Homo sapiens: one gene and its partners. Changing the gene in region 1 together with any one later gene gives a genetic interaction. Each region holds a gene or a part of one and is shown in the gene's direction. Other genes may lie near its edges.

What was found.
Region 2: changes in SMNDC1 (region 1) and ANAPC13 together harm fitness more than expected from each alone (negative genetic interaction), as found in Homo sapiens cells (one large-scale study listed by BioGRID).
Region 3: changes in SMNDC1 (region 1) and EIF3C together harm fitness less than expected from each alone (positive genetic interaction), as found in Homo sapiens cells (one large-scale study listed by BioGRID).

Annotation. Positions count from the first base shown.
Region 1 is NC_000010.11:110,302,089-110,306,477, reverse strand, and holds the start of SMNDC1 (survival of motor neuron-related-splicing factor 30), read left to right. Parts: upstream 1-1,557; 5' UTR 1,558-1,730; intron 1,731-2,890; coding exon 2,891-3,010; intron 3,011-4,389. UniProt on the Homo sapiens protein: Involved in spliceosome assembly.
Region 2 is NC_000003.12:134,477,123-134,480,163, reverse strand, and holds the end of ANAPC13 (anaphase-promoting complex subunit 13), read left to right. Parts: intron 1-1,448; coding exon 1,449-1,574; 3' UTR 1,575-2,458; downstream 2,459-3,041. UniProt on the Homo sapiens protein: Component of the anaphase promoting complex/cyclosome (APC/C), a cell cycle-regulated E3 ubiquitin ligase that controls progression through mitosis and the G1 phase of the cell cycle.
Region 3 is NC_000016.10:28,724,815-28,728,465, forward strand, and holds part of EIF3C (eukaryotic translation initiation factor 3 subunit C), read left to right. Parts: intron 1-104; coding exon 105-198; intron 199-1,790; coding exon 1,791-1,981; intron 1,982-2,206; coding exon 2,207-2,431; intron 2,432-3,651. UniProt on the Homo sapiens protein: Component of the eukaryotic translation initiation factor 3 (eIF-3) complex, which is required for several steps in the initiation of protein synthesis.

The DNA of each region.
Region 1 (4,389 bases):
ACAATAACAGAAGTTCTCTAAAACTACATTTTATTTTAAACGAATATTTATTTAAAAGCACATGCTTTCTGTTTTGTCTGCCTTCTTAATTCTAGCTACACACTGCTGCCCTCTGCTGCAATTTCAATCTTTCACACTCACAAACCCGACCTAGTTTCCATCTATACAGGTTATCTGACTCACTGCAAGGGTTATGTGTGTGTGTGTAGAGAACAAAAGGGAAGGCTCCTTGAAAAGAAAACTAGGAACTAAAGATGTTGGCACAGTTCAAAAGAGCCCATCTGAGAAGTGGGCCTTTTTTTTTTTTTTTGAGACGGAGTTTCACTCTTGCTGCCCAGGCTGGAGTGCAATGGCACGATCTCGGCTCACCGCAACCGCCGCCTCCAGGTTCAAGCGATTCTCCTGCCTCAGCCACCCGAGCAGCTGGGATTACAGGAATGCACCAACATGCTCGGCTTTTTGTTGTTGTTGTTGTTGTTGGTTTTTTTTTTTTGTATTTTTAGTAGAGACGGGGTTTCTCCACGTGGTCGAGCTGGTCTCGAACTCCTGACCTCAGGTGATCCGCGAGAAGTGGGCCTTTTTATGGATCCAGCAACAAACTCCCAACCTCCCAGGAAAGGTTGCTTCCTGTCATCTATATAAAACTTTGTGTCTCAGGCCTTTATTGCTTTTTTAATTGAAATAAATTATATATATATGGTTTAAAAAAAAAAGAAAAGGAAAAAGGGTAAACAGCAAAGAGGGTAATCAATAAAACATTTGGCTTCCACTCCAAACCTCTGAACAGTTTTGTGTATCCGTCCAGAAAGCGTATATATTATTACAAACATACACAAGGGGCATTTCTTTTTGAACACAAATGTGAGTATTCCTACCACTCTTTACCATTCTAGACTAACTTGGACGTTGTTCCCTATCAGGCGAGATTAACCCAACTAAATTAAAACCAAGTAGGTTTTAACAAAACAGATTTTAAAGAAATCAATCTTCTCTCCAATAGGTTATTTCTGTCACGATTTAATTAGCTTTCTGTTACTACTAAGGCTTGTATCATATAAAGTAGTGGTTCTCAGGCTGGGCGCGGTGGCTCACGCCTGTAATCCTAGCATTTTGGGATGCCGATGCAGGAGGATAGCTTGAGCCCAGGAGCTGGAGACCAGCCAGGGCAACGTAAAGAGAGCCCCCACCAACACCCCCCGCCACCCACCACCACCGCCCCGGAAAAGCAGTGGTTCTCAAACGTCAGCGGACATTGGTATCATCTGGTGAGCTTATTAAAACAAGAGTCTCTGGATTCAGGAGGTCTGGGGTGGGGCTTGAGAATTTGCATTTCCAATAAATTCCAAGCCGGAACTCCAGGAAGATAACCTGCATTCCGCGCCTGGCGAAGCCCAGCTACGCCATTTCCTTCCTAGGCCCCGCCTACTTCGTGTCCCTGACAGCCAGGGACTGGCTAGAGGGCGCGCGGAGTCACGTGAGTCGAGCGACCTCGCGCGAGAGTTTGTATTTCTCGCGAGACTTCACCGTCTCTGTCTTTTCCTCCTTCCAGTGCCCGGCGTTCCTCCCTTCCCCCTCGCCGCCGACCGAGTTCTTCCTTTTCAGACCGGGTCGCCTTGCTGTCGTCGCGGTGATTTTCCTGCTACTGCTACTGCTGCTGCTGCCACCGCCACTACCACTGGGCTCATTTGCCCCGACCCCTTCCCGCCGCCCCGCCCCCAGCCCCACACAAGGTAACAACCCCCCTGAGGGAGAGAGTAAGGCCTGGCCGGGCCCGGGTCCCTCCCGAGGTGAAGCGGAGGCCCAAGGCTGAGGAGCCCGCCTCGCCGGAGACGCCCAGGCGCTGGCCCTGGATCCCGGAGCCACGGCCGTCTCTCAGCCAGAGCTGAGCCTCGGCGGCCCGGCCGGCGCTGGCCTCCGTGCGGCGGCGGCAAACACGGCCCGCAGGGGACCGGGTCGGGTGGGGCTGGGCGCCGCGCGGCTCCCTGTGGAGCCTGCCTGTTGGAGCGCGGCGGGGCTCCGGCGGTGGTCTTGGAGCTGGCGTGTGGATTTCCACGTCCGAATGATCGAGTTGTGGCGGGCTTTGAGGTGCTGCGTGGCGGGGAGGAGAGCAGCCTGGGTCGCTGTAACTCTTAGGGGGCCTTTGCAGGCTCCCAGCCTTTGGTTGGACGGGAATTTTACGAAGGAGAAGGGTCCTCGGAAACGTGGTACATTTGCTTATAAACCATCAAAAAAGGTTAATTGGTATCTTATTTTCAGGAAAATGACTGAGCTGGATTTGGCGAAAGGCACATTCGTTAGAATGCCTAAATGGGAGAGTACCTGTGCTGTTCTTTTTGCTGAAGATAATGCACCGATAAATATTTAAGCGACTGGGCGAAAGATTTTTGTTTTGGAGAGGCACTTTTAAATACACTCTTAATTGAATAGTTCAAGTAAAGATCGTAGTTTGTGTAGTTAATTTAAAAACGCACTTGTTTGGCTTTGGAAGCATACTGTAGTGCTTAAAAATAAGTATTTGGATTGTTTTTGAAAGTTTCGACTTTTCCAACAGAGTAGTGCTTTTTAAAAAGATAACACTGATTATTGAGCCGAATTCAGCACCTACCCTGTGGATAGGAGTTAAAAGAAAATTAGAAATTTCTTTGTATCTGTATGCTTTTTTAAAGTATGGAATGTATCTCAAGTTTATAATCCTCAGAATCTGTTGCCTTTAAGTTTGTGGTTTAGCTGAAGTCTAAACTGAGAGTAAAGGTAATGGTGGTAAATTAAGCTGCAGTGTTAGAAGGAGTTAGAGGCAAAAACTGGTAATTCAGGCAGACAGGGGAGTTAGTTTTTTATGCCTTGATTTTTGGTTTAGTTTTCATGGTCTAACCCTTTTTATTTTCCCTAGATGTCAGAGGATTTAGCAAAGCAGCTGGCAAGCTACAAAGCTCAGCTCCAGCAAGTTGAAGCTGCATTATCTGGAAATGGAGAAAATGAAGATTTGCTAAAATTGAAGAAAGATTTACAAGTAAGTATGGGTAGACAATTGTACTTTTTCTCTGTTTTTCAAATTATTGCTTGAATCCCTAAGTACCCAAAGCGCCTTTTGAGGGGTTACACCCCACCCTATGTATATATGTAAATTCTGTAGGTACCATTGCTTGTAGAAGTAGGGTTGCTTCCCCAGTTCTCAGGTTTCTGTACATCAGAGTGAAATATTGTTCTTTGTTATATAAATCTTGTGTGCTTACATAATTTTTAAAAACTAAAGTTGATAGAAATTTCCAAGTCTGTCAGATTTTCAAGACGAGAGGTACATGTAACTTCACAATGAAAAACGCTTTTAGTTTTTAAGACCTGGCAAATGAAATTTAGTTCAAAAAGTAACAAAGATTGAAGGAGAAAAATAGAACCTTAAGATTCTTTTTAATACCACAAGATTCTTTGAAAATGCGTGCCTTTTTTTTTTCCCCAAAGCTAGTGGATTACATTTTGTATTGAAAACACACCACAAAAATGCCTAAAGAGAGACAAGTGCTTTGTATAATTGTTACATAGATGTTCAGACTTAAGGCTAGGTTTTACAGTAAAGTTGTTGACACTTGTGGAAATTGAACTATGTGGTGAAAAGGAGATCTTTGTCATGGTAGAGTTTAGTAGATAATGAAACCTTTTTTTGAAAACCTGCACTGGGATTTCAAGACAAACATAGAGCCATCATAGTAAATACCTTTTGTGTTTCAGGACACCAGACTGATTCAGAAAAATGCCATATATAATTTGCAAATATATATGACTTTTAAGAGCTTCCTTTAAATTCTGAACCTGATTTTTAAAAAGTTTCAAGGGTGTTTTGATTAGAGATTGCTTTACCGACTGAGTACTAAACTCAAATCTGTATCCTGTCTAAAAATTCATTCCCTCCCTTTATTATCCCACTGCCCGTTAAAACTATTACTATTTTAGGGATATCAGAACTGCAAACAAACTTAACGGAAATAGGGTCCGGATTTGGGATTCTGGAACTGCTTATCTGGGCGTAATTAAGATGAGTTGAATACTTTCAAGTTCTACATTTAGAATAAAATTGCAGTAGTATGTTATTTTTAAACACACACAAACTATCTGGGTTAATTTCAATATGAACAAGACCCCTCTTCGATACGTAGAAGCCAGGCCTGTGGGCTTCAGGGTGCCAGTCAATACAAAAAAGATGTTTTGGGAGCAGTTTCTCCCACTCCCAGGCCCTTAAGTGAGAAATAACCCAGTGGTTTGCCACCTGTCCATTTGATTTGCTCATATGTTGTGAGTATACATTGAAGATGAGGCAACAGAGGCACACCGACCTCTTATTTTCTTACACTCTGTAAAGTGCTTTCTGTTTGCCCCAAAGAGAGATGCCTTGAC
Region 2 (3,041 bases), on another chromosome or scaffold:
ATATTATTGCGTTACAATAAATGATAGCTCTTCTCAATCTGTTCAAGTATGTTTGAATCTGTCTTGTAGAACAAGATGTATGTGATTCAAATATAGATAAGTAAATATCATTTAATATATATTGAGCATAATTTTAGAGGGGAAAACATATTCACATACTACAAATTAGAATCCAGTGGAAAATTTTAAGTCTGGATATCGCATAACAGTTTGCTAACCATAAAACAAAACACAGATAATTGAAAAGAAATATATTGGTATCTGTGAACTCTGGTACAAAGCAGAGTTTCAGTAGTAATACATTTAAACTTAAAATACAAGTAAATGATCCCAGATCCTACAGTAAGTGTGGCCCATGACTTACCATTTTAAGAAAATTGCTGGTAGGGTGTGAATTGGTCATTTGTTGTGTTTTTTGTTGCTCTGCTCCACCACTAGAGGGAGGTCTTATCTATTAATTACATTTTCAGTGTTTCCTGCCCTACCTCCATTTTTATTATAATATAGACATGTTGGGCCAGGCGCGGTGGCTCGCGCCTGTAATCCCAGCACTTTGGGAGGCTGAGGCGGGTGGATCACCTGAGGTTGGGAGTTCGAGACCAGCCTGACCAACATAGAGAAACCCCATCTCTACTAAAAAAAAATAAAAAAATACAAAATTAGCCGGGCATGGTGGTGCATGCCTGTAATCCCAGCTACTCGGGAGGCTGAGGCGGGAGAATCGCTTGAACCCGGGAGGCAGAGGTTGTGGTGAGCCGAGATCACGCCATTGCTCTCTAACCTGGGCAACAAAAGCAAAACTCCATCTCAAAAAAAAAAGACATGTTGGGTCCAAGATAATTTTTTGGATACATTTCTTGTGTCTAAGGAATATGCCAGCAAACTAGTATTCTTTTAAAGCACGCTCCCGCTAAAGAAGATTTAGGATTCACTCATCTCAGTGTTCCTAGCCGCTAATAATAATAGCAAATATTCCTTGAGCACTGGATACCCCACAGAGTGCTCAGCACTTGATCTGAATTACCTCACCTAATCCTTACAGTAGTCCTGTGAGGTGATGGCTCTTTTGTTCTCCCATTTGCCAAGGAAGAAACAAAGGCCCCAAGGGTTTGCATACCTTGCCCAAGTAACCCAGCAAATGGGAGAGTTGTGGTCTTGGATCCTAGTTGGCTTCCAAAAGCCTCTGCCCTTAACCTTTCTGCCACAGTGCCTCCTTCACAAATGTCAGAGTCAAAATGCCCATCATTCCCTACTGAAGAAGGCCCGGGCCATGTTTGAATGATACTTCTGATAGTTTCCTCACGTGTATGATTTTAGCTTTTTTAGAATACACATATCAATTATGTTGCCTGTTCCTAGGAACTCACAAGCTTTAATTCTAAGTGTTCTTGAGTTCCAAGAAGATGCAGAATATATTACTGTTCTGAATTTCTATTGTACCTTTTCAGAATGAGCTTCCTGAACCTGAACAAGACAATGGTGGCACCACAGAATCTGTCAAAGAACAAGAAATGAAGTGGACAGACTTAGCCTTACAGTACCTCCATGAGAATGTTCCCCCCATTGGAAACTGACGCTTGGCTCCTTTCTTGTGGATGGATTTTCTCAAAGTACACAGATAAAGCATGGTTTGTTTCAGTCTCCAAATTCAAACCTTTGAGTAATAAATCAGCACTCAAAAATGTACACCCATTTAGTTTGTGGTAGCAAAGTGCAATGCGAAATTGAATGAGAAACTGAGATTTCTCAGTAATGGTGAATATTTCGCTCTTTAAACCTAAAACTCTTCATTGAGTAGCTTATATTTGAACATGATTGGTTAAACATTTGCCTCTACCTCTGATTTTGCTTTGCTGTCAAAGTTTAACACCTTCCAACTACTTATGTGTGTCCTGTAACACAGGTGATTGAACGTATGAGAGGGAAAGGCAAAGAAAAAGGAAGCCAGACACTAGGAGAATTATTAACTTCTCATACTTCCCCACATTGAGAAGCATTCGGAGTGTATTTAGCCTGTAGATGTTGTGATATGCAAATATCCCATTCCCTGGTTACTGGCATTCCTAAGATTCTTCATGGTATTTTCAAACTTTGGATAAATTTACAGATTAGAAAGATATCTGACAGTTAATCTCTGTTCTCCTTACAAATTCCTTTTGTGCTGCTGGAAAGGATCTTTGGCTAGGTGGATGACTAGTTTTATTCAAAGCCTTTTCTCAAAGCCCTTTCAGTTACAACCACCCCACTATGGAATCAGTATTTAGTTATACATTTGTATAAGAACCTGTATTTTGAAAAACACATTCATGTATATTTATTCCTGGAATTATTTGCCTGTTAAACAGTGTCTTTCATGTTCTCTCCCCAGATTGTAAACTCTGTAAGAAGCTGCTTGTATCTGTATCCCTTGTTGAAACTCTGAAAACACTGAATAACTAAAATCTCTTCTCATCCTTTTTATGCTGGGTCTTTTTGTTTACTTAGCTTTTAGGAGGAAGAGGTACATGAAAAAACAAATTAGCTTATTTTAGGTTTTCAATCACAAACATGATTTTAGCAGCTATCCTATAATCCAGATACATCCAGGCTGATTTCTTCTCTTTGCATCAGTAGTTCTGCCTAGAAATCTTTTATCTTCAGAATAAAGACCCCAAGGCACCAGTCCCTTCAGTAAGCAAAGAAAGACAACCTAATAGAAAAGAGACTTACAATATTAAAAAAACTTATACAAGAGAAAAAGCTTTTCAAAAAATTAAAATACCTAGAACGCCACAGTTCTTTCACATTCTTGTTAAATGAGGATTTTACAGCTTACTTGTGGTATGTAATCTCTGAGACACTAACATCTAAGAACTTGACAAATGTTCATGTGAATCCTGCCTAGCCTTTCCCTGGAATATTAGTAGACCAGTAAAATATGAAAGCTATTCTTGATTTCTGCTGAACCAGAATATGATATCTGTAAGACAGCTGTTGGTTTGTGTCTATGACACTCATCCGAGAACTGCCGCCACCCCCAGGAATAGCCTCTGGGCAAGTTC
Region 3 (3,651 bases), on another chromosome or scaffold:
GTGTGTATTTTATGCTTTGGGAAGGCTCAGTGGGACCCGAGGGTTGAGGTTTGAGACTGAGATCTGGGCTAATTTGTTGACTCCTCCTTCGCCTTCCTTTTCAGCCACTGCGTGTCCGTGGCTGCATCCTAACTCTGGTGGAACGAATGGATGAAGAATTTACCAAAATAATGCAAAATACTGACCCTCACTCCCAAGGTGAGCCTGAGCAAGCGTGGGCTTTGCTGAGAGGAAAATTGTGGGGAATATTACTAGGTTTAGAGCTTTGTGAGGATTATACTAAGTCAGAGTGCTTGAAAAGCCAGCCTTTCAACTTACCTAGCGTTCACACGGAAGGGCCTGATGAGATGCTGGCTCCCAGTCCCATCGTTTCTGATTCCATAGGTCTGAGTGGGGCTTGAGAACCTGCACCTCTAGCCTGCTCCCAGGTTGCTGGTCTCAGGGCTATACTTTGAGAACCTTTGGGGTAAGGCATCTATTCACTTCTCTTGTTTAGCTTGGATGAGAGGCATTGGGGTGTGAAAGTGCAGCATAGTTTACTCAGTAAAAGTGTGAATGTGCCCATCAAGTCAAGGGTGTAGTGATTAACAAGGCAGCCAAAAGCTTACCTTTTGTGCTGGATGGAGAAAGGCAGATTGAAAAATAATAGTAGTAAGATATGGCCGGGCGTGGTGGCTCACGTCTGTAATTCCAGCTCTTTGGGAGGCCGAAGCAGGCGGATCCCGAGGTCAGGAGATTGAGACCATCCTGGCTAACACGGTGAAACCCCATCTCTACTAAAAATACACACACACACACAAAAAAAATTAGGCGTGGTGCTGGGCGCCTATAGTCCCAGCTACTTGGGAGGCTGAGGCAGGAGAATGGCATGAACCCAGGAGGCGGAACTTGCAGTGAGCCGAGATCACACCCCTGCACTCCAGCCTGGGCGACAGAGCAAGACTCCATCTCAAAAAAAAAAAAAAATAGTATGATGTTAAGATAATTCTGGGCCAGGTGCAGTGGCTCACGCCTGTAATCCTAGCACTTTGGGAGGCCGAGGTGTGTGAATCACCTGAGGTCAGGAGTTTGAGACCAGCCTGGCCAACGTGGCAAAACCCTGGCTCTACTCAAATACAAAAATTAGCCAGGCATGGTGGCAGGTGCCTGTAAATCCCAGCTATGTGGGAGGCTGAGGCAGGAGAATCCCTTGAGCCCAGCGGGCCAGAGGTTGCAATGAGCTGAGATCACACCACTGCACTCCAGCCTGGGCGAAAGAGTGAAACTCCATCTCAAAAAATAATAATAATAATTCTAGATGATATAAAGTTCAGAGTTAAACTAGGGCCCTGTGGTAAGAAGTGGCTGGAGGGGTGGCTGCTGTAGCTAACAGCTGGAGAAAGCACCCTTAAGTAGGGACCACCTGAGGTGAGATCCAATGAGGAGGAGTTAGGGGAAGAATCAGCTGAAGACAGCGCCTGACAGGAGGAGCAGAGAGCGAGCTTGATGTTCCAGGAGTAAAAAGGCCAGTGGGACTCCAGCACAGGAAGCCAGAGGGAGAATCGTGGGAGACCAGGCAAGGGCCAGGCCTGGCAGACCCTTATTGGCAGAGGTTGGCAGTTGGGATTTTTTTCCTAAGCTGTGGGACTGGAAGGTTCTGGGTCCTGGGAGTGGGAGATGGCCTTTCTGGGGCACACTGACTAGACTTTTCTGACGGGTGCAGAAGAGGGACGGGTTGATTGGAATGAGTGGGGACAGATGGGAAAGCCTGGCTGCCCAGCTGAGACAAGGGTGGGTGCTCTCCCTGCCAGAGTACGTGGAGCACTTGAAGGATGAGGCCCAGGTGTGTGCCATCATCGAGCGTGTGCAGCGCTACCTGGAGGAGAAGGGCACTACCGAGGAGGTCTGCCGCATCTACCTGCTGCGCATCCTGCACACCTACTACAAGTTTGATTACAAGGCCCATCAGCGACAGCTGACCCCGCCTGAGGGCTCCTCAAAGGTGAGCACGTGGCAGTCATGGCAGAGGGGAATGGGTGTGTCCACCTGTCCTCCACTTCTGTCAGGACTTGACAGCAAATCTGTTACTCTCTAGACTTCCGCAGGTGGAGCAGGGAGGGAAACTGAGGTATTAGAATGAGACTGGATAGAGTCTCATCTTTAGTTGCTAGAGCCTGTGCCTTTTAAAGCTGGATCTCCTTTGCAAATAACCTCCCTTCCTCCCCAGTCTGAGCAAGACCAGGCAGAAAATGAGGGCGAGGACTCGGCTGTGTTGATGGAGAGACTGTGCAAGTACATCTACGCCAAGGACCGCACAGACCGGATCCGCACATGTGCCATCCTCTGCCACATCTACCACCATGCTCTGCACTCGCGCTGGTACCAGGCCCGCGACCTCATGCTCATGAGCCACTTGCAGGACAACATTCAGCATGCAGACCCGCCAGTGCAGGTAGGATGGGGAGGCCTTGGAGGTGAAGGAGTGCCAGGCCCCTGGCCTCTTGGCAAACTGGCTTAACCAGAACAGCCACCTGTCTGGCCGGTGCAAATTTAAGTAGACACTTGGTCTTTCCCAGTTGCCAGCATCCTGCAGTCCTCCTGCATGTAAACACATAATTTCGTGTCAAAAAAAAAAATTATCCAGGCTTGGTAGTGCTTGAGCCCAAGAGGCAGAGGTTCCAGTGAGCCGAGGTTGTGCCACTGCACTCCAGCCTGGGTAATGGAGCAAGACTGTTCAAAAAAAAAAAAAAGCTGTGTCTGGAAGTGTAGATCATGTAAAAGTATATTTGAGGCAACTAGGAAATGTTTATGTGTAGAGCACCTGGTGAACCTGTCTGGGGGTACTGCTGGTTTTTAAACAGCCCTCCTATTTGTGTTTCTATTCTATGGTATGAACATATCACTGTGTCTGTTTTCCTCTTGGCGGACACCCAGTTTATTTCCAGTTTTTGGCTCTAATGTATGAAGCTGCTGTGAACATTCTTGTAAGAAACTCAAAAGTGGTTATACCATTTTACACTCCTGTTAGTGTTTGGGAGTTCCTTGTCAACTTTTGGTGGTGTTGGTCTTTTTTTGAGAGGGAGTCTCGCTCTGTCGCCAAGGCTGGAGTGCAGTGGTGCAATCTTGGCTTACTGCAACTGCCACCTCCCAGGATCAAGCGATTCTACCTCAGCCTCCCGAGTAGCTGGGATTACAGGTGCCCGCCACCACTTCCGACTAATTTTTGTAATTTAGTAGAGATAGGGTTTCACCATGTTGGCCAGGCTGGTCTCAAACTCCTGACCTCAAGTGATCTGCCTGCCTCAGCCTCCCAAAGTGCTGAGATTACAGGAGTGAGCCATCATGCCGGCGGTGGTATTGGTCTTTTAAACTTTTTTTTGTTTTTGTTTTTTGAGGCAGGGTCTTGCACTGTCACCTAGACTGAGTGTAGTGGCATGATCATGGCCCGCAGTAGCCTCAAATTCCCAGGTTCAAGTGATCCTCCCACCTCAGCCTCCATAGTAGCTGGGACTACAGGCATGTGCCACCATAGCTGGGACTACAGGCATGTGCCACCATGCCTGGCTAATTTTTTATTTTTTGTAGAGACAGGGTCTCACTATGTTGCCCAGGCTGGTCTCAAAGATCTTTTAGGGGTGTGTGTGTGTCTCTTTTAGGGGGTGTGTGTGTATC